Linked DNA regions of Homo sapiens: region 2 is linked to region 1. Evidence: fine-mapped expression QTL. A gene starts in region 1. The other region holds a variant in brackets. All regions are shown on one strand. Distances are from middle to middle.

Region 1 (16,573 bases):
AAACCTAGGAAAAACTCTTCTGCACATGGGCCTAGGCAAAGAATTTATGACTAAAACCTCAAAGGCAAATGCAACAAAACAAAAATTCATAAACAAGATTTAATTAAACTAAAAAGCTTCTACATAGCAAAAGAATCAACAAAGTAAAGAGGTAACCTAAAGAATGGGAAAAAAATATTTGCAAACTGTACATCTGACAAAGGACTAGGATCCAGAATCTACAAGGAATCTCAAACAAATGAACAAGAAAAAAAAAATAACTCCATTAAAAAGTGAGCAATGGACATAAACGGATACTTCTCAAAAGAAGACATACAAGTGGCCAACAAACATATGAAAAAAATGCTCAGAATCACTAATCATCAATAAAATACAAATTAAAACCACACTGATACCATCTCACACCAGTCAGAATTGCTATTATTAAAGAGTTAAAAAATAACAGATGACAAGGATGCAGAGAAAAGGGAGTATCATACACTGCTGGTGGGAATGTAAATTAGTTCAACCCCTGTGGAAAAGAGTAGAGGGATTTCTCAAAGAACTTAGAACTATCATTAGACCCAGCATTCCCACTACTGGGTATCTATCCAAAGGAAAAGAAATCATTCTATCAAAAAGACACTGCACTAGTATGTTTATCACAGCACTATTCACAACAGCAAAGTCATTGAATCAAACTAAGTACCTATCAACAGTAGATCAGATAGGCCGGGAGCAGTGGCTCATGCCTGTAATCCCAGCACTTTGGGAGGCCGAGGTGGGCAGATCATGAGGTCAGGAGTTTGAGACCAGCCTGACCAACATAGTGAAACTCCATCTCTACTAAAAATACAAAAATCAGCCAGGCATGGTGGCATGTGCCTGTAATCCCAGCTACTCAGGAGGCTGAGGCAGGAGAATTGCTTGGACCCGGGAGGCGGAAGTTGCAGTGAGCCAAGATCACGTCACTGCGCTCCAGCGTGAGCAACAGAGCGAGACTCTGCCTCAAAAACAAAACAAAACAAACAAACAAACAAAAAACAGTAGATTAGATAAAGAAAATGTGGTACATATACACCGTGGAATACTACGTAGCCATAAAAATGAATGAAATCATGTCCTTTGGAGCAACATGGATGCAGCTGGAGGTCATTATCCTAAGCAAATTAATGCAGAAACAGAAAATCAAATATCACACCTTCTCTCACTTGTAAGTGGGGTCTAAACAATAGGTAAATATAGACATAAAGATGAAAATAAGATACTGTGGATTCCAAAAGTGGGAAAGGGCCGGGCGTGGTGGCTCACGCCTGTAATACCAGTACCTTGGGAGGCCAAGGTGGGCAGACCACTTGAGCTCACAAGTTTGAGACCAGCCTGGCCAACATGGTGAAACCCCATCTCTCCTAAAAATACAAAAAATTAGCCGGGCATGGTGGCTCGTACCTGTAGTCCAAGCTACTCGGGAGGCTGAGGCAGGAGAATCGCTTAAACCTGGGAGGCAGAAGTTGCAATGAGCCTAGATCAAGCCACTGCACTCCAGCCTGGGTGACAGAGACTCCATCTCAAAAAAAAAGGTGGGAAGTGACAGGTAAGGGGTAAAGGTTGAAAAACAACCTACTGGGTACTATGTTCGCTATTTCAGTGATAGGTTCAACAGAAGCCCAAACCTCAGCATGATGCAATATACCCATGTAACGAACCTGCACGTGTATCCCCCACAACCCAAATCTAAAATAAAAGCTAAAGCGTAGTCTAACTTCATTTATAACTAACCAGAGAAACAAACCGTATTAAAGCTGGACGTTAGGAGTCAACCAGCATCATATTATCAAGTGTGTAGTCATGACCCGTTAGTAGATTAAAACAAAACAAAACAATATCGTGGATTGGAGCTAGCATTTTTTTAATGGAACTAAATAGGATTGATTTGCAAATATCAAGTGTATTGAAGGTAGTGAGCGCTTTATTTTATTTTATTTTATTTTTGAGACACAGTCTCTCTGTCGCCCTGGCTGGAGTGCAGTGACGCGATCTCGGCTCACTGCAACCTACACCTCCCAGGTTCAAGTGATTCTCCTGCCTTAGCCTACTGAGTAACTGGGATTACAGGTGCGCGCCACCACGCCGAGCTAATTTTTTTGTATTTTTAGTAGAGATGGTGTTTCACCACGTTGGCCAGGTTGGTCTTGAACTCCTGACCTCAAATGATCTGCCTACCTCGGCCTTCCAAAGTGCTGGCATTATAGGCATGAGCCACCGCGCCTGGCCATGAGGCTGTTTAAAGTAAAACTTTGAAAAGTGAAACTTTTGATTCATTATATGTATACACATACACGTATAACACACATCTATTCTTTTTATTTAAAAAAATAAAAAATAAAGATAAATGTAAAAAATCAACCTTTGGGAGCACAGAACATGGAAAATATATATAGGTGTCCTGGTCAAAAGTTCAAGAGGTTCCTAAACTTTCTCAGTTCACAGACCCCTCAGTATGCCAGTTATTTTTTTCATGGAACCCCTAGGCCAAAAAAATACCTAACAGTTCCATTTACTAAGTAGTTCAGTCCACAACCTAAAAAGTATTTATAGCCTACCAACTTAGTAGCAGATCGAAAAATAAATATGTATAAATTGAAATAAATATTTTTATTACTAAATTACCACAACTACTTAATAGGATGTGTGTACCTACTAGATATTACACAAGTTCTCAAATCTTGAAATCATTTTGGACACCACCACCTTCATTTACTGTTCCAAATTGATTTTTGCATAGTACTTGCTTTTTATCACAGCAAACTCCCAAAACCTAGCGTTTGGAAGACACAGTGTCATCAAAAAAAATGGAACACAATCTCTTGTGTGGTATCTCAAACTGGTAGTTTGAGTAGTGTCCTATAGATGTCAAATATCCCACAGCTATCCAATATTGCTGTTTCCATTAAAATTTCTCAAATAATGCATAGTGTCCAGGTGAGTTACTATGGTGCTCCACAGTACGGCAGGTCCTCCATAACATAGTTTCATTCAATATCATTTCTTCACAATTTTGATGAGAAAAAAATTTTGATTTCCCCACCAGGGCTACCATCTATGTGGAGCCTGCATGTTCTCCCCATGTCTGTGTGGCTTTTCTCCGTATGCTCCAGTTTCCTCCCACATCAGAGAGGTGCACGCATTAGGTGAACTGACATGAATTGGCATGTCTATATGGTCCCAGTCTGAGTGAATGTGGGTGGGTGGGTGGGTGTGTGTGTGTCTGTAAATGCTACCTGCAATGGAATGGCAGCCTATCTTGTGCCCTACTTGCCGGGACAGGCTCCAGCCACCTGCCATCCTGAACTGAAATAAGTGGGTAATTATCTTGTTTTTAGTATTTCTTAAATGTATGCATAGGACCCATTTATTTCAATGTTTAATATTAGAGGTGTTTGGGGTCTTAGAAGTTGCAGTTTCCAAGTACTTATGGACAACATTAAGTGAGGATTTACTTCAGTGCACAGTTTAGGAATACTGGATTTAAGAAACACTGATCTAGCCTACGGGTTTACTTTGTAAAGTAAGAAATAAGACTTAAGGCTACAAAGCTAGGAGAAAAACAAATATATTTATTATAGATTTTCCTAAATTTCAACCTTCTGCCAACAAAAGTTTTTTTGTTTGTTTGTCTGTTTTGAGCCAGAGTCTTCCTCTGTCACCTAGGCTGGAGTGCAGTGGTGCAATCTTGGCTCACTGCAACCTCTGCCACTCAGGTTCAAGCAATTCTCCTGCCTCAGCTTCCCCAGCAGCTGGGATTATAGGAGCCTGCCACCATGCCCAGCTAGTTTTTTACTTTTAGTAGAGATGGGGTTTCCTTATGTTGGCCAGGCTGGTCTGAAGCTCCTAATCTCAGGTGATCTGCCCGCCTCAGCCTCCCAAAGTGCTGGGATTATAGGCATGAGACACCGCACCCAGCCAACAAAAGTTTTGTTTGTTTTGAGATGGAGTCTTGCTCTGTTGCCCAGGCTGGAGTGCAGTGGCAGTCTTGGCTCACTGCAACCTCCACCTCCCTGGTTCAAGCAATTCTCCTGCCTTGGCCTCCCCAGTAGCTGGGATTACAGGCCTGCCACCACGCCTTGCTAGTTTTCGTATTTTTAGTAGAGATGGGTTTCGCCTTGTTGGCCAGGCCGGTCTCGAACTCCTGACCTCAAGTGACCCACTTGCCTCGGCCTCTCTAAGAGCTGGGATTACAGGCGTGAGCCACCAAGTCCCAGCCCTTCCATCAACAAATGTTTTGACACAGGATCTAATTATGAGACACTCTGTTGATGAAATGTGTAGATCTCTAAAAATCACATTCAAAAATACATTTATATCACTATTTAATAGAAGAAAAAATTTACTTCCTTTTTTTAGAAAAAAGTTTCAAAAATTATAAAAGTGATTCTTACAATAAAACCATACAAAAATGTCTAAAGTAAAAAAGAAAAGTCATCCACTCCCTCAGGAATAACATGTTTAATGTCTATCCTTATAGACCTTTTTCTATTCACATGCAAAATGAAAACAAAACTACATTTGTCTATGTGTTTTTTAAATAAATCATATTCTATAGTATAGTGCAACTTATTTTTTCACTTAATTTTATATCATGAACATTCTTCCAAGTCAATACATAATTGTAACAGCAAACACTTATGTGGCGCTTATTAATGCTTATTTAGGGCCTAACTGTTAACTCATTTAATTCTCATGGTACCCCTGTAACATGAGAACTACTAGTATATCCAATTTATAGTTGACTTTAAGTAATTCGCCAAGAGTCACAGCTAGAAAGTAGTGCAGTTAGGTTTTGAATCCAGAAGGTCCACCGCATGGTTCCAGGAGCTGAAGGATATGCTCAGCTGCTGCTCATGAAGTAAATATAGATACCCTGAAACCTGTTAACAACTGCACAGTAATTCACAGCATAAAAATACTAGACTTTTAACTATTAGCCTACCAACAGACATTTAGGACATTTTTAAATTATTTATAAATGTTATTGACATCTTGAAATAATGCTAATATAAACATTCTTATACAATTCCTATGCTGTTAAAATTTATGTAACATAAATTTTAAGCAGGAAATGATTCTATCAAACAATATATATACTTTTAATCTTGATAGGGAATGCCAAATTTCCTTCCAGAAGGTTGCTCCAATGGTATCAATTTATAGTCCCAACTACAGAGGAAAGGGTTCAGATTCATTTTTAAGTTAACACTTTGGATTCATGAAAAAAAAGGCCCATTTTGAGTTTTTAATTAATACTGAATAGACTGCCAAGTTGATCACAATTATGTTCTGATTTTATAATTATCTGACATATTAAACAAATGTAGACTTAGCAGCTGTGCAATGGATTCTTCTCCCAGTTATGAAATCAACTATGCATGAGATATCGCCCCTATACAACCTTCTGTTTTCTTATGTATAAAATATGGGAATTGGACTAGCTGGCCTTGAAGAATTTAAACTCCCAATACTGAGATTAAGAAGTGACTTAAAGTTATTACAAGGCTATAATTATAGTACTAGTATAACAGGTTAGGGTCTTAAAGTTTATATTTTCTTTAAATTACCGTAACCTGTTGCCAGAGCACCTAGGCAAATCATTAAAATAGTAAATGAAGTTTCCACTGTGGCTTATTCCCAGTGGCTTTTTAATCCCAGGCTGTCATTCCCTTGCTACCCAGCAAATCTGAGCATATCTCTGGAATATATTCCCAAGAGTTGAGGTGTGCTTAGGAACTAAGAACTAGTCTTTTGTTTTGTTTTGCATTTAAAATATTATTCTGGGACTATTCTTTAGTCAATTTCTTCAATTAGTATTTATTGACTATGTTACCATATGCTAGGCACTGGGTGCATAATAGTGATTAAAGGATCTCTGCCATCATGGAACTTACAGACCAGATGAGAAAGGCAAAGAATAACTCAAAATAACCACAAGTAAATGTAAAATCACACTTATGATAACAATGAACAACAACAACAACAAATCAATACAGAAAAAAATACTATGCAATCTGATGATTTTTTTACACTATAACACTAAAATTTGCCTCATGTTGCAAAAATAACAATCACAATTATATGCAGAGAATTAACTTTTTAAATCATCAGTTGTCTCAACAATAAAATCATCAAGATATTACTACTTTTCAGTTATGTTACTGATCATGTGGCTTGAATGTTTGTTTTACATAACTAAGAGTATAAATGACTGAAAGAATAAAGATGACAGAACTGAGTATCCAAAGTGAAAGATAATAAATGAACTACACTTTAATAATCTTGTTCAAGCAAAAAGTATATACATAAAGAAGTAAGTGATCCATCATAATTCATGACTTGTCAATAATTAACAAAACGTTATAAAAATACTAATGTTTTTAAAGAACTGACGATCATCAGCATAAGGGGCAAGTGGCATGTAAAAAGGAACAAAAATAGAATAATTTTTTAATATTTTAAAATAACACCAAATGCCAGAGCACCTATATTAATATTTAGTTTAAAATAAAAATAATTCCACATTATCTGCAGAAATGAGAGGCATTCACATAAATGATCTTCCTTGTGTGTCAGTTTCCACGACTGCAAAATAAGGATATCTGCCATACCTACTTCACAAGATCACTGTGAAAACTAAATAAAATAATGTATATAGAAGCACACCAAAAACTGATGTCAGTTATTTTAGACTTCTTTTTTGCTCCCACTATAAATTATAGCAATTTAACAAATAAAATTGATTATAGCAGTACTTCATCTCCTTTCTTCTGCTCATATATGGTAGAAGTGTTATAAAATGGGCAAAAGACTGACAATCAGAAGCAGAAGGAAAAAATCCAAAAACTTTATAATTCATAAATTGATTGCCCCACAGAAGGTTGGCTGTTTAAGTATTAACGCTCTTACATGACACACACACCAATTTATCTCAGAAAATCAAAGAAATATGTTCACATACGTATGAAATTTTTTACATATACAACTTGCCATCTCTACATACACAAAATTTTGCTACTGAGGATGAAGAGATACAGAGATACACATGTATTTATCCACATATACAATGTATTCTAGCTTGAAGTTTATTTTCAGATTACAGTATCTTAAATTTAATGCACTGACAGTTCAAATGATTCAGATTTATTTCATTACATTAAATAAAATTTGTCAATTTAGCACACCGAAACTAATTATTATACGCCCATGGCTTTGAAGCAACTTCCAGCATGGGTCTAACAATCCCTCAAAGTCACAATTCCATGTCATTAGCAGTGCATTTCCTTGTTTAAAAACAATATATTAAACGAAGAAATTTTCAGAATGGAGGGCAACTTTTAGTATTTTATCATTGTTTCTACAGAACTTTTCAGATTGTTACTAGCTCTGCCAAAGATAGTCTTTCTTTTAAAACTCTTCAAATACAGGGCAGGAGGTATCGTTAACATGGCAACAATAACGACTTCCCCAAATTCAAAACAAGGATCACCATCAAAACAAAACAATCAGGTGGAGTACATGGATATTGATCACTATTTCTGACAACCTGTTTTTTCCCATATGAAGGATTTGCTACTGCATTAAAACATTAAAATCTATGCCTATGTGCAACTTTCTATCTGAATATTTAAAATCCAGGCAAATTCCAATTCATATCTTGTGACATTAGCTAAATATTACTTAGCATGTTGAGCTGCATTTAAAAGGCAGAGGAAAATACTGACAACTTCCAAAACATAAAGCCTTTTAAATCTTTCCCCAAATTATCTGTGAATAAACTACCTTCAGCAGCCGCTAGACTAGAGTAGATCAAAGTTTTCCCTATACTTGAGAATGTGATCCCCACTGAAAAGGAACAGAAACTGATCATCCCTGCCACTGGAGCCAGTCCCCGGAATCTCCCCAAATACGCCTGATCGCCAGATGAAGAAGGGACACTTCTCCGGGCAGCAAAGGCTAGAGGTATCTTACCTCTGCAGGCTAGAGGAGGGGTGGAGGAGGCGGGAGGACACTGGCACGTAAGGAAGGAAATTCCGTCTTCAGCAGGCACTGGTGGGACCCGAAACCTAGGTCCCCGAAAAGCCTCAGAACCCAGGGAGGTTCCCCGAGGGGGACGCCAAGCAGGGCCAAGACTCTCCGCGCCCGGCCCCGCCTCTCTTGCCGCCACCGGGGACCCGGGACCGCGGACAGAGACAGTTGAGGCTGAGCGAGACTCCGCGGTCCCAGCCAGGTCCTACAGGAGCTCACCTGAGAGTGTCGCCTCCGCCCTCGGCTACCACGGTGCATCCCGCGGAGCCTGGCGGAGGGTGCAGTGACGCCGCCCCGACCGGCCCCAGGGCTGCCCGGCCTGGCCTCCCCGCTCCGGGGACGCACCGGGTGCCCTCCTCGCACCGGCTCCGGGGATCCGCCGGTCCGCTGGGAAGGAAGACAAGGCGGAAAGGCTGCCTCCCCTCCCTCAGGGCAAGCCACCCCCCGAGCTGCGGCTCCCTGCAGTTCTCTCTGGCGCAGGTCTGGCCCCGCTCCCCGGCCCGGGAGTCACTTCGTCAGGGGCGGCCCAGTCGCCATTACAGCCCAACAACTGACACGGAGGAGGAGCGGCGCCAGCGGCAGCGGCTGTGGCGGCGGCGCGAGGCAGGGCGGGAGCAGTCGGGCCCAGGCAAACCTCGCGAGAACTGTCCCGAGACAGTGCCACAGGCATGCCAACCTTCGGTTAGGGCCATGTTGAGTGTGGCCGAAAGGTGGGAGCGAAATAAAACAAGGAGCAGAACCGCGAAGAAGCCATGTTTGGTGCGTCGAAGTTTAAACTCGTAGGACTTGGGAGGAGCCAAGGTATATCCGCAGAAGAGACCACCCCTGCCCTTTCGCTTTGACGCTCATTGGGCCTTTTGGCTGCGCATTTCACCCCGGGCTGAGAAAACAAGCTGGGGATTCGACAAGAATGAACTCAAAGTCTGGAAACGGCAGCTTCTGAGAGTTTACAATGTTTCACCAACTGTCGTCCAAATAAGTCGTCACCCCTGTCAGAGTAGTTGCAGCTCTGCCGTTACCCACTGCTGTCACTGTGGCCGTTTTATTCGCGAGGGTTACAGTTCTGTTTAGCATGCATCTAATGACTTAAGACTCCACGCAAGTAAAACGGAGTTTCCTCCCATTAAGTATTGGCTTTGCTTTAACAGTGCTTTGAGAGGCTCTCTGTGGCCAACATATCTTCTCATATCTTTGTCCTCGTTTCCCAATCTCCGCGTGGTGAAATCATCTATCAAGACTTGGCTTAAAGGACCTCTCTTCTGCAAATAATGCCATCTTCCGCTAGGTGCTCACTGCACACAGACTCGCCGCCCACCACTTCTGTCCACCTTCTGAACTCCGATAGTTATTTACCCAGAGACTGTTTCTCATCTTTAAGTGTCGTGAAGACTTTAAGATCTGTTTTATCTCTCTATACCCCAAAATGGCCTAGCACAGTAACTAGGACATTGTAGGTGCTCAATAAATGTTTGTCGAATATCAATGACAGCAGGAGGCAGTAAATGGTCCCTCTTTGTAGGGCCTACAGCTGTGCCTGAGTAGGATGTACAGAAGTCCTGCATACGTGTGAAGTGTCTCCAGGAAGCTGCACTGGAGGGGACAGGAAATGTGGGTAATCGTATGGTGCAAGTGGTAGCAAAAAAGACAACATAAGGAAAATGTTATTTAGGTTTTGCCCAGTCTTGCTGTTTAAAGCCCTGTGTTAGATGCTTTTCATGCGCTATTTTACTGAATGTAAACAACCACCTTATTAAATATACTCACTTTTTTAAAACGAAGAAACACGTACTGGCCGGTCACAGTGGCTCACGCCTGTAATCTCAGCACTTTGCGGGGCCGAGGCGGGTGGATCACGAGGTCAGGAGTACAAGACCAGCCTGGCCAAGATGGTGAAACCCCGTCTCTACTAAAAATACAAAAATTAGCCGGGCGTGGTGGCGGGTGCCTGTAATCCCAGCTACTCGGGAGGCGGAGGCAGGAGTATCGCTTGAACCTGCGAGGCGGAGGTTGCAGTGAGCCGGGATCGCACCACTGCACTCCAGCCTGGGCAACAGAGTGAGACTCCATCTCAAAAAAATAAAAAAAAAGAAAGAAAGAAAGAAAAAGAAACAAGTACTGAAAAAGCTAAGTAATTTGCCCAATTTTATACCATCAATAAAAGGGAGCTGTAAGCTTTGGGATCTGCTTTGCCCCAAAGCCTGTTTATACTTTTTCAGCCCCATGCTATCCCCTTGACAACAGAGAAGACACCAAAGTTCTGTCACTGTGCTCAGAGCAGGGTTACCCTGGTATCAGCCTATGCACAATTTCTACTTCTTATACCTTGTGTTGGTCTGTCTTCTCCTCGCCTCCTAAATTCCCCAAGCACATCAATGTCTTTCTTTTCTAATATCCCGTTACTCTTGTGTTTACCCTACAGATTGGCCCTGAATCTATCAAGTTTTGTACTAGTTGCATATAGTTTCATGAGAGTAATTAATCTCTGGAACAAGATTGGAGGTTTACTGTGGAAAGGTTTGTGGCCCTTCCCAGACGTCTCCGCAGTGTTAGGCCGGTAATAGGTATTCAATATGGCTCCCTTGTTTCTCCTACTTTTTAGTAGACACTAAGATTGCATTTTTCTTTATATTCTTTGTTGATTACTGTGGCCTTGACTCTCACCACTCTTTGGATAACTGGATCTTGGCCCTAGACTAAATCTCCAATTACCCGTTACCCATCTTCACATAGATACAGAAGTCACCAGCACCTTCAGCTCCCATATTAAGGTTATCATTTTTCCTCCCTCAGTCTCACAAAGCCAGCTCCTCCTCGTTTCCTCTGTATTTCTGTTCATGGCCGTCACAGAACACTCTTCTGAGAACTAAGAGAACCAAAGTTTCAGAAATATTATATACTCCTCTGTACGCCTTGCTCCCACCCAGTTATGAAGTCTCTAAATACCACTGATGCATATTTCTTATATGTACTTCCCTTTTGTCTGATTGCACCACTGCCTTCCTAATTTAGACTGTCATTTCTACTGCCCAAATGATTATAGTAGTATTTCCACAGTTCAGCTTGAGTTTTGTCTCTATCATGTCTCTACCTGCCAAGGTAAGTAAAAACTTTTCGCCTCAGCCATCAAGGCTTTTCTCAGTATGGCACCAACCTAACTTTCCATCTCCCTTAAGTAAGACAGCACAATAAAGTAGAAAGGGCAGGAATGTGACATCAGAAAGACACTTATTCAAATCTTGGCTCTATCACTTACTTGCCTTATGACCCCTCAAGAACCTCAATCTTCTTGTCTATATCAAGGCTAATGATATCTACCCTGTAGGGTTGTCTTAAAGATTAGAAATAATACCTGTCAAGAGCTTGACGTTAAAAGACAGAAATAAACGGTAGCTAATGTCACGAAATGGGAAGTGATACACTGACTGAGAATGTTACATTCAAGCCACACTGGATCGGAGAAACAACCTGTTCATTCCTACCTCTAGGCCTTTGTTTCCTAACCTGGAACACATATTACCCCAGCTCGCAATTTCTGCCACATTCTCTAAGTGCCAACTGAGAAGCTAACTACTACAGAAAAAAATCCTTGATTGCTCATACTTTCCAGGTGCTCTTCCACCCCTGAACTGTGTGATGCTGTGTCTCCTGCATAGAGCGGTATCTACTATCAGTATTTCTGCATGTATCTTATACATCATGATCATGTTAGATTCTAAGGACCTTTGTCTCCTTCATAGTGGATTAAAAGCATGAATTCTGCACATAGTGAATGACATCATTACATCGCCAAAGCTATATCTATTTCTTAATTCGTTGTCTAGAGATCAATATCAAATTTTGCATTCCCAGGAAAGAAAACATAGCTATTCACCTAGAATTTAAATTCTGGGTTTAAACCTTGGCTGAGGCCGGGTGCGGTGGCTCACCCCTATAATCCCAGCACTTTGGGAGGCCAGGGTGGGTGGATCAGTTGAAGGCAGGAGTTCGACACCAGACTGGCCAACATAATGAAACCCCATCTCTACCAAAAATACGAAAAATTAGCCGGGCATGGTGGTGAACGCCTGTAGTCCCAGCTACTTGGCAGGCTGAGGCATGAGAATCAGTTGAACCCAGGAGGCAGAGGATACAGCGAGCCAAGATTGCACCACTGCATTCTGGCCTGGGTGATGGAGTGAGACTCTGTCTCAAATAAATAAATAAATAAAGCCTGGCTGAGCTACTTACTAGCCATATAACTTTGGTCAGGGTACTTAACCTCTTCGTGACTCAGTTTCCACTTCTGTATAGTGGAGATTGCAATGGTACCTACCTCACTGGGTTGTGTAAGAAAAGAAATAACACATGTAGAGGAATATAAAATGTGTTCAGAATATACAAATATATAGAGACAGAAGGTAGATAAGTGATTGCCTGGGGCAGAGAAGTGGAATAGACATAGGGGAGGGGAGGAGAAATGGGAAATGACTACTAGTGGTTATGGAGTTTCCTTTTATTTTGAGAGGGAGTCTCGCTCTGTCGCCCAGGCTGGAGTGCAATGGCATGATCTCAGCTCACTGCAACTTCTGCCCCCCAGGTTCAAGCGATTCTTCCGCTTCAGCTTCCTGAGTAGCTGGGATTACATGCTATCCGCCATCATGCCCTACGAATTTTTGTATTTTTGTAGAGACGAGGTTTCACCATGTTGTCCAGGCTGGTCTTGAATTCCTGACCTCAGGTAATCTGCCCACCTCAGCCTCCCAAAGTGCTGGGATTACAGGCATGAGCCACTGTGCCTGGCCTTTTTCTTTTCTTCTTACAGAGTTTCGCTCTTGTTGCCCAGGCTGGAGTGCAATGGTGCGATCTCGGCTCACTGCAACCTCTGCCTCCTGGGTTCAAGTTATTCTCCTGCCTCAGCCTCCCATGTAGCTGGGATTACAGGCATGCGCCACCACACCCAGCTAATTTTGTATTTTTAGTAGAGATGGGGTTTCTCCATGTTGGTCACGCTGGTCTCGAACTCCCAACCTCAGGTGATCCGCCTGCCTCAGCCTCCCAAAGTGCTGGGATTACAGGCGTGAGCCACTGTGCCCGGCCCCAGAGTTTCTTTTTTATGCGATGAAAATGTTCTAAAATTGATAGTGGCAACAGTTGCACAACTCTGTGAACATACTAAGACCCATTCAATTGTATGCTTTAAATAGGTGAATTGTATGATATGTGAAGTATATATCCATAAAGCTGTGTTGAAAAAGAAATAACACATGTGAAGGACATATAGTTGGCACATAATAGGTGCTCAAAAATGTTGCTTATTTTTACTATTTTTAATACACTGTATTAGTGCCTTGCATATAATTAGGTATTCAATATTTGTTGAATTAAATTTATTTGTTGAATTTAGATTCTAGGTGAATAGTGATGTTTTCTTTCCTGGGAATGCAAAATTTGATATTAATCTCTAGACAACAAACTAAGAAATGGAAAGATACAGCTTTGGTGCTGTAATGATGTCATTCACTATTTGTAGTTAATTGAATAAAAATATGTGTCAGGATTAACTAAAGGCATTCCTAAGGAAATGTCAAGCCTAGATGCCAAGTCTGATCTGTAATCTTGTCCACCATCTTTTCAATAATAAATTCAACCATAACAAATCTCCCTTTCATTTTAACAAACTATGCAGATACCAAGTTTAGGGGTAGGTTTTCTGGTTACTTTTATTTTTTCTAGAGTTGGTCTTTTGGCTTAGTCTTGTACTTTTCTAGGGGATTTGTTATTCTGCTGGGCAGAATTAAGAAAAAACTGAAATTTATCAAAAATAAATGTCTTTGATAAGAAAATAGGCATAACCATCTATCTTCATGTATATAAATATTTGTGTGTATATATGTGAGTATGTGTACATGAGCATACAGCAAAGGAAATATTGATTATAGAAACCTCTGTGATATCAAATCCAGAATGCAAAAAAAAAAAAATAGGCATATCTACAAAGGCAGCATTTAACCGTATTTGACTACAATTGAAAGTTAAAAATTGAAATTTTTGAGTGAGGTCCGAAAACAAACTGATAGCAGCAACCAGAGTAAGTTGTGAGACAGGAGCACAAGATGCACATTTTAATTATTTTTATTTTTTAGAGTAGGTCTTACTCTGTCACCCAGGCTGGAGTGCAGCGGCACGATCACAGCTCACTGCAGTCTCAACCTCTGGGGCTCAGGTGATCCTCCTACCTCAGTCTCCCCAGTAGCTGGGACTACATGCACAACGCCTGGCAAATTTTTGTATTTTTGCATTTTTGCAGAGACAAGGTCTTGCCATGTTGCCCAGGCTGGTCAGGATGCACTTTTTTTTTCTTTGATACAGAGTCTCGCTCTGTTGCCCAGGCTGGAGTGCAGTGGCGTGATCTCAACTCACTGCAACCTCCGCCTCCCGGGTTCAAGCGATTCTCCTGCCTCAGCCTCCCGAGTAGCTGGAATTACAGGTGCACACCATCACACCTGGCAAATTTTTGTATTATTACTAGAGATAGGGTTTCACCATGTTGGCCAGGCTGGTCTCAAGCTCCTGATCTCAAGTGATGTGCCTGCCTTGACCTCCCAAAGTGCTGGGATTACAGGCATGAACCACTGCGCCCGGTCCTTAAGATGCACATTTTAAGAGGAGATATATGAGACAAAGTATGTGATTCTTGAACCCCCTCATGCAAGACCCTTCCACCTGGTCACTGATATGAAAGGATGGAGAAATTGTAGATTCAAAGGGTTTGACAGGAAGATTTCTTTGGATAGGCAGTGGGGTGCAGAGGTGGCTTCTTCCTTACCTCAAGCTCGTAGTAGGGGCATTGAGAAGACAATATGGAGAGCTTGATGCGTGGGCCAAAATCTGAAAGGCAGAGTAGCCTGTGGCTGGATTCAGGCCTGAAAAAGGCATAGCAACCTTGACAGCAGAGTAGAGGATGGTGGCAGGGAAGGTAAGTGTTGCTGCTCTAAAATGGGAGTTAGGCCAGGTGCAGTGGCTCATGCCTGTAATCCCAACACTTTAGGAGGCCGAGGTGGGCAGATCACTTGAGCCCAGAGTTCGAGACCAGCCTGGGCAACATGATGAAACTTTGTCTCTACAAAAAATTAGCTGGGCTTGGTGGCACAGGACTGTAGTCCCAGCTACTCAAGAGGCTGAGGTGGGGATATCACTTGAGCCGAGGAGGTCGAAGCTGCAGTGAGTCATGATCGTGCCACCACACTCCAGCCTGGGTGACAGAGTGAGACCCTGTCTCAAAAAAAAAAAAAAAAAAAGAATAGGCATTTTCCTAAAGAAAAGAAGAAGAAGGAGGAGGAGTAAATTAAAATCCCAGCACTTTGAAGTCCAAGGTGGATGGATCACCTAAGGTCGGGAGTTCAAGACCAGCCTAGCCAACATGGCAAAACCCTGTCTCTACTAAAAATACAAAAATTAGCTGGGCATGATTGTGGGTGCCTATAATCAGCTACTCAGGAGGCTGAGGCAGGAGAATTGCTTAAACCTAGAAGGTGGAGGTTGCAGTGAGCCAAGATCACACCACTGAACTCTAGCCTGGGCGACAGGGCCAGACTCTGTCTCAAAAAAATAAAATAAAATAAAATGGAAGGGATCCCCCTAAGGAGGCAGCCTACCAGCTTGAGTGGACCCCAGAGAAAGAGGAATATTTGGCTACAGGACACTGGGAGTGGCCACCCAAAGGGGAGGCAATATACACATCCAGAGAGTTGTAGCTGCAGAGGCTGAGCAGGAGAATCCTTAAAGAACCCAGGACCTCTAAGAGAAACAATGGGCTTTACCTATCTACCAAGCCTGGGGTAAAGCCACCTTACAACAGTACCAGTCACGTAAGAATGTTCTTGTATCCCTTACGGCTCTTCCCTGACTCCTCAGTTCCCTGCCTTCCACCCTGGGCAGGGTAGGAATAATAATTAGCAAACCTGAGGAAACGGATATACTCCAGACAGGAAAGGAGAAAAGAAGGACCACGCCTCACTTCATGGAAGGAGGCAGCACTAATGCAGGAAGTCCTAGATCAAAACGGATAGAAGTTGTACCTTTGAGTAAAGATTAAAATGTTGATTCATATACTGGGCTGAATATTTTATTACTAAATTAATACTGTGTTTGCAAGCTAATGTGATATAAGACTTTTATTAACTACAATGGATGAGAAAAGTCATGGGGCTTGCCTGAGTTTTTACGCAGGAGTAAAAGGAATTTCCCCACTTAGGACAGTGAGAGAACAAAATAAAGTTGCTTCTATTATTACACCCCTGAGTCTTGTTTAGTCGCATGCATGAATAATGACCTTTACCAAAGACATAACCTTTACCAAAAGGAAGGATTCTTTTTGTTTGTTTGTTTTGAGACAGGGTCTCACTCTGTTGCCCGGCCTGGGGTGCAGTGGCGCGGTCAGCTAATTTTTGTATTTCTTGTAGAGATGGGGTGTCGCCGTGTTGCCTAGGCTGGTCTTGAACTCCTGGGCTTAAGGGGTCCTCCTGCACTGGTCTCCCAA
Region 2 (16,573 bases), 180 kb before region 1:
TGTATGTTTTGCAAACATTTTCTCTCAGTCAATAGCTTGTGTATTAATTTTCTTTCTTTTTATTATTATTTTTTTGAGACGGAATCTTGCTCTGTCGCCCAGGCTGGAGTGCAGTGGTGCAATCTCGACTCACTGCAACCTCCATCTCCCGGGTTCAAGTGACTCTCCTGCCTCAGCCTCCCAAGTAGCTGGGATTACAGGCACACGCCACCACGACTGGCTAATTTTCGTATTTTTAGTAGAGACGGGGTTTCACCATGTTGGCCAGGCTGGTCTCGAACTCCTGACCTCAGGTGATCCACCTGCCTCAGCTTCCCAAAGTGCTGGGATTACAGGTGTGAGCCACTGCACCCAGCCTATTCATTTTCTTAATGGTATCTCTTGATAAGCAGAAGGTTTTTGTTTTTATGAAATCTATTTATCTTTTTTTTTTTCTATTGTGGTTTGCACTTTTTGTGTCCTAAGAAATCTTTGCTTATTCCAAGGCCACAAAGATGTTTTTGTATGTTTTCTTTTCTTTCTTTTTTTTTTATGAGACAGGGTCTTGCTCTGCCACCCAGGCTGGAGCGCAGTGGCACGATCACAGCTCCCTGCAGCCTCGACCTCCTAGGCTCAAGCGATCCTCCCACCTCGGCCTCTGAGTAGCTGGAACCACAGGCACTCTACAATGCCCAGCTAATTTTTTATTTTTTTATAGCAGCATGGTCTCACTATGTTGTCCAGACTGGTCTCGAACTTCTAGGCTCAAGCAATCCTCTCATGTCATCCTCCCAAAGTGCTGGGATTACTGGCATGAGCCACCATGCCCAGCCTTTTCTTGTATGTTTTCTTTTATAAATTTTATAGTTTTAACTCTTACATTTAGGTCTTTGATTCATATCAAGTTAATTTTTGTATATAAGGGTAAGGGTCAAAGTTCATTTATCTCCATAGAAATATCCAGTTGTCTTAGCAACATTTATTGAAAGGACTATCTTTTCCTTATGGAACTGCCTTGGCAGAGTTTTCAAAAAGTAATTTACCATATATGTGTGAATCTATTTCTAGACCCAATTCTGTTCCACTAAAATACATGTGTATATGACACATATGGTATCCTTGTGCTGGTATCACACTGCCTTGATTACTATAGCATCATAGTAAGTCTTTTAATGAGATAAAATTTTATATACCATAAAATTTACCCCTTTAAAGTATACAATTCAGTGGTTTTTAGTATAGTCACAAAGTTGTGCCACCATCATCATTATCTAACTTCAGAACATTTTTATAACTCCAAAAGGAACCCATTAGCAATTACTCCCCACTTCCTGTTGACCCCTGAAAACCACTAACCTAATTTCTGTGTCTAAAATGGAATCTTAGAATATGTAGCCTTTTGTGTTTGGATGCTTTTACTTAGCATAATATTTTCGAGGGTCATCCCTGTTGGAGCATGTGTCAGCATTTCACTCCTTTAAGTGACCCAATAACATTCCATTGAGTTTTATTAGTTGAGTTGTTTTCACCTTTTGGCTATATAAATAATGCTGCTATGAACATTTGTGTATATGTTTTTGTATGAACATATGTTTCAGTCCACTTGGGTATATTCCTAGGAGTGGAATTGCTGGAGAGATATTTATTTATTTATTAATTTATTTATTTATTTGAGATGGAGTTTCATTCTTGTCGCCCAGGCTGGAGTGCAGTGGCACAGTGTCAGCTCACTGCAACCTCCGTCTCCCGGGTTCAAGCAATTCTCCTGCCTCAGCCTCCTCAGTAGCTAGGATTACAGGCATGCGCCACTACACCCGGCTAATTTTTGTATTTTTAGTTGAGACAGGGTTTTGCCATGTTGGCCAGGCTGGTCTCAAACTCCTGACCTCAGGTGATCCACCCGCCTCAGCCTCCCAAAGTGCTGGGATCACAGGCGTGAGCCACTGTGCCTGGCCTGTAATTCTTTATATTAATTGGTAGCAATCCCCCAGTTTTATTTCTCTTTTTTGAATTGTTTTGGTTATTCTAGTTCTTAGCATTTCATATGAATTTTAGAATCAGCTTGTTGGCTTCTTTTAAAAAATAGGAAGCCTATTGAGATTTTGACTGAGATTGCATTACATTTATAGATCAATTTAGTTTGCTACATTTTAATTTTTTAATTAGTTAATTTTTAAAACTATGTCCTCCGTGTGGGGTCAGACTCATAGTTAGGAAGCCAGGAATCCAGACTGGATTGCTAAAATCTTTTCCCACATCTTCAGGATGAGAATGAAGCAATTTTCAGATAGCTTATGAGGTAGAATAGGCCCGCAGGCCCCGAAGCAATCTAGCTGAAGACTTCTCTATCATCTTGTCTGTTTTGTACATTTGTTACCTCATGTTGTTTGTTTCCTTGCTGTTACCACTCAGAATTTTAGTTAGTTCTTTGATAATCTACCCTGTCTTAACAGTGCTAACATGGATATTTGGTTCTGAGCTCTGAGCATTTGGTTCAGAGATCTGTGCTGGAGCCAGTGTGGAGGGGGAAGCTAAGGAGGAAGCAAGAGAACTTCAAGGGCATCTCAGACTCGGGAACAAAAGCTGAGCCTCTTGCCAGCTGAAGGGGCTCCCTGAGATTATGGGATTTGTCTGTATAAAGGAGTTCCTTAGACAGGACTCTCAGTTACACTCAAAAAGATGCTAAATTGAACTAGCTGTGGCAGGAAAGGGGAACTGATTGCCTCAAAGAGCCAAATAGAGGGTAGGGGAAAGCTGTGACACCATCTTTCCTCTCTGCACTTCTAGTCTCTGTACTTTGGCTTCATTCTCTCAGCCCAGCTGCTTCCAGAAGGCTAGAACTCTGGTCACACGCTTTCATTTTTGAGGTCAGAGAGAAAAGACAGAGCTTCTCTGCTGACCCTAGTTAGAAAAACACTGGGGGGAACTGATTGGCCAGGCTTGGGTTATGTGTTCATGCCTAGATCAGTCGCTATAGTCAGGGAGATGGGTCATCCGGGGCAATGTGCTCATTCCTATAGGTAGGAGAGTAAGCACTGTAATTGGCAGCCTTCACTGGTACTGCATGTTTGGAGTAAGGAAGGCGTACTGTTACCAGAGGAAGAGGTCACGTGGGGCTGTACAGACCAAAGTGGACAATGACCACCACTGGGAGGGATAAGGTTGTACGGATCAAATGGGAGAATGAAAGAGTCCAGCACAGGGCTTGAGACAGAATAGGGCTAAACTCATAGGAAAGGCTGAGGTGTGAGTACATCTGGAGGCCACAATACCCATGTTAAGATGCGTCATGAATGTACTGAGATTTCCAGGTGTTTAGGAAAACTTGACTTAAGCCACTTGGGTGCAAAAAAGGGGGAGAGAAGCATACAGAGAAAAAAGAATGTCTTGCAAGAATTTGCCTAGCCCACGTAGGCATTCAAGTAACGCTTGCTGAATAATTGTCCAAATGAAATATTGAGTGTTTTTATGGTCCCAGGTGATGACCACATTAGCATCCAGATGTCTCATTCTTACTTTAAGACAGCCTTGCTCTCAGCAGACATTCTAAAGGATTCTTGAGGCTCCACCCCTTCTTCTCTATTTACCCAGTTGCTCCGTGCTGTTGTCTGTGGAACAAGTCTCCTTTAGAGGATGCTTCTGTTGGACATATGGGCTTTCTGGGCTGGCTGTGCGCAGACATAGCCGTTCATATGCCAAGCTCTGCAGTTGGTGGTTGGCCCTGCCTCACCTGCAGCTGGGTACTGCAACTTCTGGTCTAGTAGGGGGAGTTGGAATGTCTTGTCTACTACTGTACTTTTATAAAAACATAAAATACCCTGTCAGCTACTTGGTGAGCTCAAATTTTTCTAGCTGACATTAGGGGCTCCTCTTCCTAACTTTGTCTTACTACCTGAAACAAGTTACCTTTCTGCCTGTCCTTTCTGGCAACTTGTTTATATTATTAATCTTGTCTTAAAAGTAATCACAAGCCAGGTCAGTGGCTCACATCTGTAATCCCAATACTTTGGGAGGCCAAAGCAGGAGGATCACTTAAGCTCAGGAGTTCGAGTCCAGCCCAAGCAACATAGCAAGAACCCATCTCTACCAAAAAATCAAAATATAAGCCGAGCATGGTGGTGGCATGCCTGTGGTCCCAGCTACTCAGGAGGCTGAGGTGGGAAGATCACTTGAGCCCAGGAATTCAAGGCTGCAGTGAGCTGTGATCACACCACTGCACTCCAGCCTGGGTGACAGAGCAAGACCCTGTCTAAAAAAAAAAAAAAAAAAAAGTAATGACAGCTGCGATTGTCTCCCTTACCATTCACTAATTGTATGAGACCAGATCTCTCTTGTCCTTGCTTGTCTTTGCACGTCCTTGTAGATGCTCAGGAAATGTTGGTTTAAAATAAAAATTATCATAATAGCCATGAATCATTGAGCATCTATATAACCAGCATGATGCCAGGTGCTGGCAATATAGTGATGAACAAAGATGGGCATACTGAGCAGCTAATGAGGATGAAGCTCACCCACAAAGCCCATGTGAGTGCTCGGAGGTGTAGAATGTTTTAGGTAGAGAGAGGAAGCCTGGCTACCTTCAGAAAACACTTCAGTGTTTCTGCTAAATTGTCTAAGTGAACTCCTCAAAGGGGACCTAAACCTCTTAAGATCTAGGAATTTGTTGTGATCCTGATTCTCTAAATGAATACTCATTTATACTTAATTTTGTATTTGTAATTGTGTATTTATTTTCTTAAAGAGAGCCTCCCTCCCCACCAACCCCTATCCCCCTGCTTCCCCAATGGTAAAATATTCAGACTGCAGAAAACCCAAATCCGCCCCTGGTAGTAAATGCAAGACATGGTCCTTGCTCTCTAGTAGTTTACAGTTTAGAGGAAGAGACACTGATCAAAGAGTTGCACAAAAAAGTATATCATGGTAAAGCGTGAGAAGGTAACAAAGAAGAACTGTGGAGTGCCGGGGGTGCAGTAATAGAGAAGGAGTCAGAGAAGCTTCCCTAGGCTGAGAGCTGAAGTTGGGGGAGTAGGCAGCAGTTAGGCAGGGGAGGGGATTCTTTTTTGAGACAGAATTTTGCTCTGTTGCCCAGGCTGGAGTGCAGTGGTGTGATCTTGGCTCACTGCAACCTCCACCTCCTGGGTTCAAGTGATTCTCCTGCCTCAGCCTCCCAAGTAGCTGGAATTACAGGCGTGTGCCACCACGCCCAGCTAATTTTTGTATTTTTAGTGGAGATGAGGTTTCACCACGTTGGCCAGGCTGGTCTCAAACTCCTGACCTCAAGTGATCTGCCCGCGTCAGCCTCCCAAAGTGCTGAGATTACAGGTGTGAGCCACCACGCTCAGCCAGGAGGGGATTCTTAATGCTTCTGCTGCACTGTCACCAGAGTTCTGTGCCCAACTCAGATCTGAAGTAGGTTTCTAGGACACAGAGAGGCAAAGAGGCTGTCCTAGCCTGTTGGTCCCAGAATTCTTCCTGGTCTCTCCCCTCTAGAGTCTTTCCCAGAGCACCTCAGTCCCTGCTTAAAACTTTCCAGTGACTTTCCATCCACTTAGAAAATTCACATTCTGTGTAGACCTACAGGTACTGCCTGCCTCTCAGACAGGGTCTCCCACTCCCCCTGCCCTGCGCTTCTCACGCCACACCACCAACCTGTGACCGCTGGGGTGGTCTTAAGACTACCATTGGCTTAAGTAGTGTTAACTTGGTAGCCCCTCCCCCATGTCATATTCAAATGCACTATCATCTTTCAATATTTTTTGCTGAATAAACTCTTTGGAAGCAATGTTTAGAATTTTGCTTTGGAAATTAACTTTGAGAAACTCCTTTATTTTATAATTGGCTATGATTTCTCAGCAGTTACTTTGCACATGGAGAAGTTACTACAGAGCCAGAAAGTCTAACCAACAAATTGTGCTCAAATGTAATGCAATTTTTTTATGATTAATACATGTAATAGGTAGTAAGGACTTAATTACATCTAGACCATTTAGATAGACGTTTATTAATATGAATTTTGTGAGATCATTCCCTCTCCTCATCTGCAGGTATGTTCTGAAGGCCTAGGAAAGCCCACTGGCCTGGGTGGTGTGGCCGCCATGCCTACAGGATGTCTCTGCTGGCTCCTGCCTCAGGCCCCCGTCCCCGCTGTTCTTTCTGCCTGCATGCTCTTCTTGTGGCTCCTTGAAACGAGTCAGGGAAGGGGAATGCTAAGTGGCCCACTCCCCTTATTTACTCTGTTACTCAAATAGTTTCCTTGGGCTGCCCTTAACAAAGTACCACAAACTGGGTGACTTCAACAAGGCCAGAAGTTCAAGATGAGTGCTTCAAAAATGTATTTGCTCATAGGTCTGGAGCCAGAAGGCCCAAATCCAAGTGTCTTCAGGGTTGGCTTCTTCTGAGGGCTGCGAGGGAGGGTGTGTTCAGGCCTCCCTGGTAGCTCGGGCTCTCTCTTAGCCTCAGCCATTCCCTAGCTTGCAAACACAAACTCCTGGTGCTTCCCAGCACCTTCCCTCTGTCTCCAAAGTTCTCCTTTGTGTAAAGACACTGTCATATGGGATTAGGACCATCCTAATGACCTCATCTTAACTTGATTACCTCTGTAAAGATCCTATCTCCAAATAAGGTCGCATTTTGAGGTATGGGATGGGGTTAGTATTTCAGTTTTGTTTTTTATTTTTGAGGCAAGGCAGGGTCTTGCTCTGCTGCCCAGGCTAGAGTGCAGTGGTAAGATCATGGCTCACTGCAGCCTTGAATTCCCGGGCTTAAGCAATCCTCCCGCCTCAGCCTCCCAGGTAGCTGGGACTACAGGTGTGCACCACCATGCCCAGCTAATTTTTGTATTTTTTGTAGAGGTGATATTTCACCATGTTGCCCAGGCTGGTCTCAAACTCCTGGGCTCAAGCAATCTACCCACCTTGGCCTCCCAAAGTGCTGGGATTACAGGCATGGAACACCGGGCCCCAGCCTAGGACCACAACATCTTTTGGGGAAGTACGATTCAACTGATAACACGTTTGTTTATTTGATTTTACAATTGGCCTTCTGTTCTGTACCCAAGGATTCAACCAACCATGGACTGCAAATATTCAGGGTGAAAAAATTCCACAAAGTTACAAAAAGTAAAACTTGAATTTGCATGTGGTGATTACTACACTAATTCCACATGAATGAAGTGATGTGGAGGCATTGTAATAGGTACTATAAGCAATCTAGAGATGATTTAAAGTATATGGGAAGATGTGCATACGTTATGTGCAAATACTATGCCATTTTATATCAGGCATTTGAGCATCTGTGGATTTGGGTATCTTCAGGGATCCTGGAACAAATCCCCCATGGATAGAGAGGGACAACTGTATACCTCATTAATTAGGTCTTAGTTCAAATGTTCTCTCCTGAGAGCTTTTTGTCACCAGCCTCTTTAGAATCCCCTTCCTCCTGCATTACTATATCTTTTCCTTAGCAATGTCATTGTAACAAGAAGCCTCTACATTGGTACTTATAAACTTCTAATTCCATGTTCAAATAAATATATTTCCTCCCTACACTGGCTTGAAAAATGTTTATTCTGATTTTCTGTGTGTTGTTTTCTTTGAGCCATGAATTATTGAGAAATAAATTATTTAATTTCCAAATGTTTGGGATTTTCTTAAATATCTTAATGTGATTAATTTCCAATTTAATTGTATTGGGGGTTATTTTATTTTGTTAATTAGTTTATTTTAGAATCAGATTCTCACCCTGTCACCCAGGCAGAGTGCAGTGGCATAATCATAGCTCAGTGTAGCCTCAACCTCATGTGCTTAATTAAGCGATCCTCCTGCCTCAGCCTCCCAAGTAGCTGGGACTACAGCAATGCGCCACTACAACTGGATAATTTTTTTAATTTAGTTTTTGTAGAGATGGGGTCTTGCTGTATCACCTAGGCTGGTCTTGAACTCCTGGCCTCAAGTGATCCTCCCGCCTTGGTCTCCGGAAGCATGGGGATCATGGGCATGAGCCACTGCATCCGGCCTGAAGTTGTATTTTAAAATGTGTATAGTTTTAACTCTTCTCAATTTCTTGAGCTTTGTTTTTGTGGTCCTGCATATGGTCATTCTTGGTAAAGATGCCACACTCACTTTAGAGTGATGTGCATTCTACAGTTGTTGAGTGTTGTGTTCTGTAATTATCAGTTAGGTCAAGGCAATTGACAGTGTTGTCCAACCATCTTGTCTTTACTGACTTGTTCTATCAATTGCTGAGAGAGAGAGAGAGATTAAAAATCTCTTACTGTAATTGTGGGACTGTCTTTTTCTCTTTTGTTGATTTTTTTTTTTTTTTTTGAGACGGAGTCTTGCTCTGTCACCCAGGCTGAAGTGCAGTGGCGCGATCTCAGCTCACTGCAACCTCCACCTCCTGGGTTCAAGCGATTCTCCTGCCTCAGTCTCCCGAGTAGCTGGGACTACAGG[C/T]GCCTGCCACCATGCCTGCCTAATTTTTTGTATTTTTAGTAGAGACAGAGTTTCACCATGTTAGCCAGGATGGTCTCGATCTCCTGACCTCCTGACCTCGTGATCTGCCCGCCTCGGCCTCCCAAAGTGCTGGGATTACAGGCATGAGCCACCATGCCTGGCCTTTCTGTTGACTTTTGCTTCATGTATCTTAGTCTCTGTTATGAAGAAGAACGCACATGTTTATAATCGTTATGGCTTCCTGATGAATTGATCCTTCTATCATTACAAACTGCCTGTTTTTATCTGTGGTAGTACTTCTTAACCTTGAATTCTGTTTTATCTGTTATTAATATATCCATTATTTTATCTGTTATTAATATATCTATTGCTGTTATTTATCTGTTATTAATATATCCATTGTATTGCTGCTAAGGAGGATATATATATATGAGGAGGATATATATAAAGGAGGATATGTAAATATGTATACATATATATACCCCACATATATATGTGTATATATACATATATACCCCACTTATATATATATATATACACACACATATATATGTATATATATACATATATACCCCACTTATATATATATACCCACACACATATATATGTGTATATATATACATATATACCCCACTTATATATATATACACACACATATACACACATATATATGTATATATATACATATATACCCCACTTTTATATATATATGTATATATACATATATACCCCACTGCAGTCTTCTCAATCTTTTACAGTTTACATGGCGTAGCTTTTTCTATTCATTTACTTTCAAGTTATTTATGTCTTCATATTAAAAGTATGTCTTTTGAGACAACATGTAGTTGGGTCTTGCTTTTTCATTCATTCTCACAATCTCTGCCTTTTAATTGGAGTATCCAATTAACTAACAATGCAATATTGATATGGTTGGACTTATGTCTTGCTTTGTTATCTTCTGTTTTACTCTCTGTTGTTTGTTTTTCCCTTTCCTGCCTTCTTTTGGACTATGTGAATCTTTTCTAGAATTCCATTTTAATGTATCTATTGGCTTTTTGGTTATGCCTCTGCAATTTTTAGTGGTTACGTTAGGTCATTGGTTCTTACAAGGGGGGCAGTGGACATTTACCCCTCCAGTGGACAGTTGGCAATGTCTGAAGGCATTTTTAGTTGACACAGCTAGGTAGGGTGGCACTACTGACATTTAGTGGGTAGGGGTAGAAGCCAGAGATGCTGATAAACATCCTTCATTGCTCAGGACAGCCCCCCACCACAAAGAATTATCTGGCCAAAATGTGAATAGTGCTGCTATTGAGAGACACTAACTTCTCACAGTCCACTTAGAGTTAATATTATACTTTACATAAACTCTTCACAGTCTATTTAGAGCTAATATTGTACTTCACATAAAATGCAGAAACTTCATAATTGTGTAAGTCCATCTGCTACCCTGCTGCCTCTGTTCTTTATAACAGTGGTTCCTGTTATAAAGAACAGTTCCTGCCTGCTGCATATTTTGTACATAAAGTTTTATTGGAACACTGCCACGGCCATTACTTTTGGTTTTTATATGGCTACAAGTGGCAGAGTTGAGTCTTTGTGACAGAGATTCTATGGCCCCAATCCAAATATTTCCTATCTTGCCCTCTACAGAAAATGTTTGCCAACCCGTGCTTTATATTATAGTTGTCATATCTATTAATTATATCTACTTATAAAACCACCCACAAAAAATATTAGTTTTTAAAATTCAAATTGTAGTCATATATTTTTAAAGAAATTAAGAGGAAAAATAGTCTTTTCTATTTATTTAGATAGTAACCATTTTCAATACCCTTTATTCTTCCTTGAAGATCCAAGTGTTGATCTGGTATTATTTTCCTTTAGCATGAAGAAAAACTTTATAATTTCCTGTAGAGCTCTGATGGCAATGAGTTTTCTCAATTTTGTTTTATCTGAAAATGTCTTTATTTGCCCGCATTCTTGAAGGATATTTTCATTAGCTATAGAATTGAATGTATTTTTTCTTTCAGCACTTTAAGGATGTTTTTATGACTATTGATGAGAAATTAGCAGTCATTCACATATTTGTTCCTTGTATGTAATATGTTGTTTTTCTCTGACCGCTATCTCATTCATTTTGCTTTTCAATAGTTTGACTATGATGTGCTTAGACATGGTCCTGTTCATAATTATTCTGCCTCAGGTTTATTGAGTTTCTTAAATCAATAAATTTATGTCTTTCATCATATTTGGGAAAGGTCCAGCCATTATTTCTTCTAATATTTTTTGTTACATTCTCTCATTCTTTTCCTTCTGTGACTTCAACTGTAAGTATGTTAGACACAGGTTCCACAGGTTCCACAGGTTCCACAGATTCCACAGGTCTCTGAAACCCTTTTCAGATTTTTTCAATTTTGTTTTTCTCTCTGTTCTCAGATTGAGTAAGTTCTATTGACCCAACCTCAAGTTTATGGATTTTTTTCTTGATTCATCATCATTCTGTTAAGCCCATTCCATAATTTTTTCTTTTAGATCTTGTAATTTTTAGTCCTAGAATTTTACTTAATTACTTCTATGATGTCTATAGAAACTCTTGTAGATTCTTCTGAGATTCCCTACTTTTCCATTTATTGCAGGTATGTTTTTTCTTACCTCATCAATCATGCTTATATAGCTGCTTTAAAGTCGTGTTTCCTGATTCCAGGATCTGAGTCATTTTGTGATTCTTTTCCGTTGAGAATAGACTACATTTTCCTGGTTCTTTATATGTCAGATATTCTTGGATTTTTTCTAAGACATTGTCAGTGTTATGCTGTGGAGACTTTGGATTCTGTTGTTTTTTCCAGAGAGTTGGCTTTTTGGTTTGGTTTGGTTTTAGGAACAAGCGAGTTAACTTGGCTGGATGTTAGCTACAAATGCTGTATCTTGGGCAGCAGCTCAAAATCAGTTCACGTCTTCTAGCTCAAGCTGGGCTGGTTTGAATGTGTACCACATATGTGTGATCCAGGGCAGCCAGCAATGTGGGCAGTTTATGCACAGAACTTGAGAATTCCCTTCTCTGACTCTCACTTCTGGGATTCCCTCCTCATTTTCTAAATGGCTTTAGGTGCCCTAAACTGTGTCTCCTGGTCTTCAGGCCAGAAAATATTGCTAATTTCCCACCAAAGTTTTAGCTGCTCTACACACAGTACCAACTGCAGCCTGCCTTCAAATTAACTGTCATAAAAATGGGACACTTTATTTTATATTGTTTCCCTCTTCCAAATGTTGACTCTGCTTCAGAATCTGCCTGCCTTTTTCACTCTCCAGTGTCTGTATGCAGTTTGTGTGTGTGTGTGTGTGTGTGTGTGTGTGTGTGTGTGTGTGTTTTCCAGAGATTATATTTTGTATATGTGAGAGGATGAATTCATAGGAAATTATTTGGTCATAGTGAAAACAGAAGACCAGATTTAAACATTTAAAAAATGTGTTTTTATATAAATAAGACTATAGCAATAAACAGAGCTTGAAATAAAAAAATAAGTTATCCACAATCTTTTTTCAGCTCATCTATAGTCCCTTCCATGTCTTATCTTTATATTCATTTTTAACATTGTTATGACAATGGTACACTTATAATTTTGTATCTTTTTTATATATACCACTTACCAATGGTGTGCTGGAAAATGTTTTAACAACTTGCTCTCTGGGGATGGGGTAAGCCCTAATTGGTAGTGTTTGCCAATTTCTCTCGTGTAAATACTCCCACCATGGCTGATTTCATGCTACTGACATGACATCATGGAATGCAGAGTTGGGAAGAATGCACACAATTGGCTCTCTCAAGCCAGTATGGGCTGAGTCCAGCACACCACTAATTACAGTGGTTGTAAAATATTCTGCCAAATGAGTGGGTAACAGTTTACTCCATTATTTCTACAACATTGAATATTATGGTTATTTTTAATGTTTTATAGTCATAAACGTTTATGCATATCTTTGGTGTTTATCTCTTTTTCCTCAAAAAGTTCATTAGGTCAAAATATATATGAAAAATTTTGTGGTTCATGGTACAAATTGTTGTGGACAAGAGTGGCTTTTTTTCTTTTGAGACAGGGTTTTGTTCTGTCCACCATGCTGGAGTGCAGTGGCATGATCTTAGTTCACTGCAACCTCGACCTCCTGGCTCAAACGATCCTCCTGCCTCAGCCTCCTGAATACCTGGGACTGAAGATGTGTGCCACCATACCCAGCTACTTTTTTTTTTTAATAGAGATGAAGTCTTGCTATGTTGTCCAGGGTGGTCTCAAACTCCTTGGCTCAAGTGATCCTTCCACCTCGGCCTCCCAAAGTGCTGAGATTTACAGGCATTAGTCACTGTGCCCAGCCAAGAGTGACTTTATTTTAAATGCTAATCTACCTGACTAACTTCAAGTCCAGGAACAAAATGTCTAGTTGATGTATTACTCTTTCTGTGGGAATACCTCTTCATTTCAAGTTTTGCTTTTCCTCCAAAGCAACCCTTGATGCTGTTGCAGAAATAGGCTGTGATGCTGGTAGCCACCTACACTTCCCAGAGCACGTATACTTCCAGATACATTATATTCCACATACACTTTCAGAGCACATACACTTTTTCCCCGAGATAGAGGCCCTGGGTTTCGGGGGTTGCAGTACAGAGACCTACGTATCTCGTGGCTGCCCAAGAGCATGCTTCTGTCTTTAAGTTGCCCTAGTAAGTGACCTAAAATCAACAAACTGGATTTGACAGCCTCCTGCTTTGGTTTCTGGACTTCTTTGACACTTGGGCATCACTCTGCGTAAATGGCCCTTTCACGGAACAATTGTAATTTCCAAAAGTATTGTGCCAATTGATATGACCACAGCTCTGTACAAAGGTACCAACAATTTTTTGAAAGGGTGCCAACACCTTTTACCAGGATCCCACTGTAAATATAAAATAAATATTATCAGTGTATTCCTTCTCTTCTCATTTCTGTATTAAGATTCTAACATAAAACTCTGCCAAAGGAACGTTCTGGACTCAACATTATGTTATTCCCCAGCTCCTTTTGGGAAACTTGGCCTTGAACAATGCAACAGTAAGTCCATAGAGCTGCCACATAACCAGCTTATGTCATCTACAAATATCACAAGTGGATAAAGAGCAGAAGTGAAGCGTTTGGCAAAATCCCTTGGAGGGGCTATGTGCTTGTTTCTCTTTATATACCTTATCCAGTTTCTTTCCTATGCCTTTCTCCTCCACTGTTTGAATGTTTCTGTGAGATCAGAAGGAGTTCCATTTCACTTTCATCTCCCTAATAGTTTTTTTTTTTTTTGAGACAGAGTCTTGCTCTGTCGCCCAGGCTGGAGTGCAGTGGCACAATCTCAGCTCACTGCAACCTCTGCCTCCTGGATTCAAGCAATTCTCTGCCTCAGCCTCTTGAGTAGCTGGGATTACAGGCGTGCACCACCACGCCCAGCTATTTTTTGTATTTTTAGTAGAGACAGATTTTCACCATGTTGGCCAGGCTGGTCTCAAACTCCTGACCTCGTGATCCGCCCACCTTGGGCTCCCAAAGTGCTGGGATTACAGGCGTAAGTCACCGCGCCGACCTCATCTCCCTGATAGTTTTATCTCCTACTTTCCATTTCGGGGAAAAATGGCATTTGGGGACTGAGAGGAGGAGGAGAGAAGGTATTTGGAGAGGAGAATGTAGTATCTACTTGTGCTGTTATTTTCCTGATCCTTTTATCTTTGGTGACCAGGATGACATGTTGAACTCAGCATGGCTTTCAGCCAGAGCATACCTGTTTCCCATAGACCTCCGATTGGCAGGGGTTAATCATGAAACAGCCTCTTGGCCATCTAGGGGTGCTCCTTCCCCCGACTGTGAACTGCAAAGAGCAGGACCCCTGGTAAACAAGTGCTTGGTAAATGCTGGCTCCTTCCCTCCTCTTCCCTTTGCTGGGAAGCAGGCAGGCTGGTTGGATCCAGGGAAGCAGTTTCGTATGGTAGAATAAAACATGAGCTTGGAGTCAAGTCAAACTAATTGGATTCCTAGGTCCTCAGCTGACCTGTGTTTGATCCTGGACAAAGTCCTTGAGCTCCCTGACTCCTGCTTTTCACTGGGAGAACACTACCTCTCTTTGGTCACAATGAGGCTTATTGATCTATTTTTGTTTTGTTTTGTTTTGTTTCTAGATGGAGTTTTGCTCTGTTGCCCAGGCTGGAGTATAGTGGCACAATTACAGCTCACTACAGCCTTGACCTCCTAGACTCAAGTGATCCTTCTACCTCAGCCTCTTGAGTAGCTGGGACAACAGCCACAGGCTACCAGCCCTGGCTAATTTAAAATTTTTTTTTGTAGAGATGGGGTCTTGTTATGTTGCCCAGGCTGGTCTTGAACTCCTGGGCTCAAGTAATCCTCCCACCTTGGCTGTCCAAAGTACTGGGATTAGAGGCATGAGCCACCCACCCAGCTTATCTGATTTTTGTAAAGTTGCCCCTTCCCAAATCACCTACACAAAAAGCCCTACGTCACCAAAGAACTTTTACAGGAAACTCACATTGGAAGACTTACTGCTTCTTCTTGGGCTACCCTGGAGGGTGACATTCAGCAAATGGCAGGACAGCATCAGGCCCTGGTTTCCCTTCCTTCATCTAGCCAGATGACAGCTGCAGACACTATGGCTGGAGGAGCACCCCATGGGGACCAAGCCTCTATGTGGATTCATATTACTATTGCCCCAGGAAAGTAAACCCAGGCTGGGAGTCTGTCAGGCCTCTTGGGGACCGGGTGGAGGTGGAAGTTACTGCTTACGCTTACGAAGGAAGCGATCTCAGAAGGCAGAGGCCATTGCTGCGAGCTAGACAGACGCTCTCCCTCTGTGCTCATCTCTAGCTTGCTGGGGATCTCCTCACTGGCCAGGTATTACAGGATGGACTCCATCCATAAGGAAAAAACCATGACTCCCACTCAGACAGCGCCTGACTGTCCATGCAGCACTTGCTGCCTCCTTTGATGGAAGTAGGCAGGGCAAGCATGACTAAGATGATGGTGGTGAAGAGACCAAGGCTATAAAAGCTGCTTGGGTTACCTGCCTAGTGAGTAAGAACATACTCCACAGCCCAACCTGAACCCAGCAGACCACCCCCAGGACCGCGCCAGGAAGGTGAAAGAGGCAGCAGAGGCCAGTTCCTTCCTGGGGCAGCGGGCTCCGCTTCTATCATCAGGTTGCTTCCCAGGCTCCAGGGTGAGCCATTCTATACCCTTTTCTCGCTCCTCAAGCCTCCAGCATGCTTTCTTCCCCCTTGTACATTCACACAAGACCTCACTTCGGTCACTTTGATGACAAAATAGAAGCCATCAGACTGGAACTCCTTTTCCTCCCACCATCAAGCTAGAAGCCACCTCGCGCCCAGACTCATCTTCTGTCTTCCCTCCTGCCCCTTCCTCCCATCAACACCGGCCCCTCCACTTGCACTCTGGATCCCACTTTGCTGCTGGTCCCCCAACCCCACTCGCAAATCTCACTTTTTCTCCCCCACAAGGTCAATTCCTTCAGCAAACAACCTGCTCTCTGTCTCTCACTAAAACAAAGTGGAACTCTTGTATGAACATACACCCTTCTCCAGATACTGCCCCATTTCCTCCCCCCTCTTCAAAACTTGACAAGAGTTGTCTGTCTTCACTGCATCATCACCCTGACCTTCATGGCCTGCCCCACTCCCGTCTGCGTTCTGATCTCACCATTCCACTGAAACTGCTGGTCGAGGTCAGTGGCAGTCTCTGCGTTGCCCCATTCAAAGGTTATGTCTGTCTTCCTCTGACTCAACCTCTCAGCAGCTTGCAACACAGCTGATGGCCCCCTCCTTCTTGAAACACGTTCTTCCTTCAGCTTTTAGTTTAAACCACATACATTCACTGGCTTGCTGCAATAACAGATTACCACAGATTTTGTGGCTTACAACTATGCAAATTTATTATTTTATAGTTCTGTAGTTCAGAAATCCAACATGGGGCTCACTGGGCTAAAATCAGAGTGTTGGCAGAGTTAGATTCTTTGCCAGAGGTTCTAGGGGCAAATCCATTTCCTTAATCATTCAGTTTATTAGAAGAATTCAGTCCTTGCGGCTGAAGGACTGAGGTCCTGTGTCT

Evidence for each region. PIP is the estimated chance that this variant, and not a neighbour inherited with it, causes the effect. A credible set is the group of variants that fine-mapping cannot tell apart.
Region 2: its variant is the best candidate, but not a certain one, in a credible set for the expression of CEP350 in whole blood (INTERVAL, PIP 0.56).

The regions. Positions count from the first base shown.
Region 1 is chr1:179,946,844-179,963,416 of GRCh38, reverse strand. It overlaps CEP350 (centrosomal protein 350), which reads right to left and starts at 8,607. Exons shown (of 38, transcript NM_014810.5): 1 at 8,275-8,607. It overlaps LOC101928933 (a long non-coding RNA gene), which reads left to right and starts at 10,939. Exons shown (of 4, transcript XR_241158.4): 1 at 10,939-11,151. RefSeq lists a silencer at 8,173-8,622 and enhancers at 8,410-8,911, 11,002-11,111.
Region 2 is chr1:180,131,351-180,147,923 of GRCh38, reverse strand. No RefSeq gene overlaps it. Among named protein-coding and RNA genes, the nearest start is that of QSOX1, 15 kb to the left of the region's middle. The variant C/T (reference allele first, on the strand shown) is at 8,430.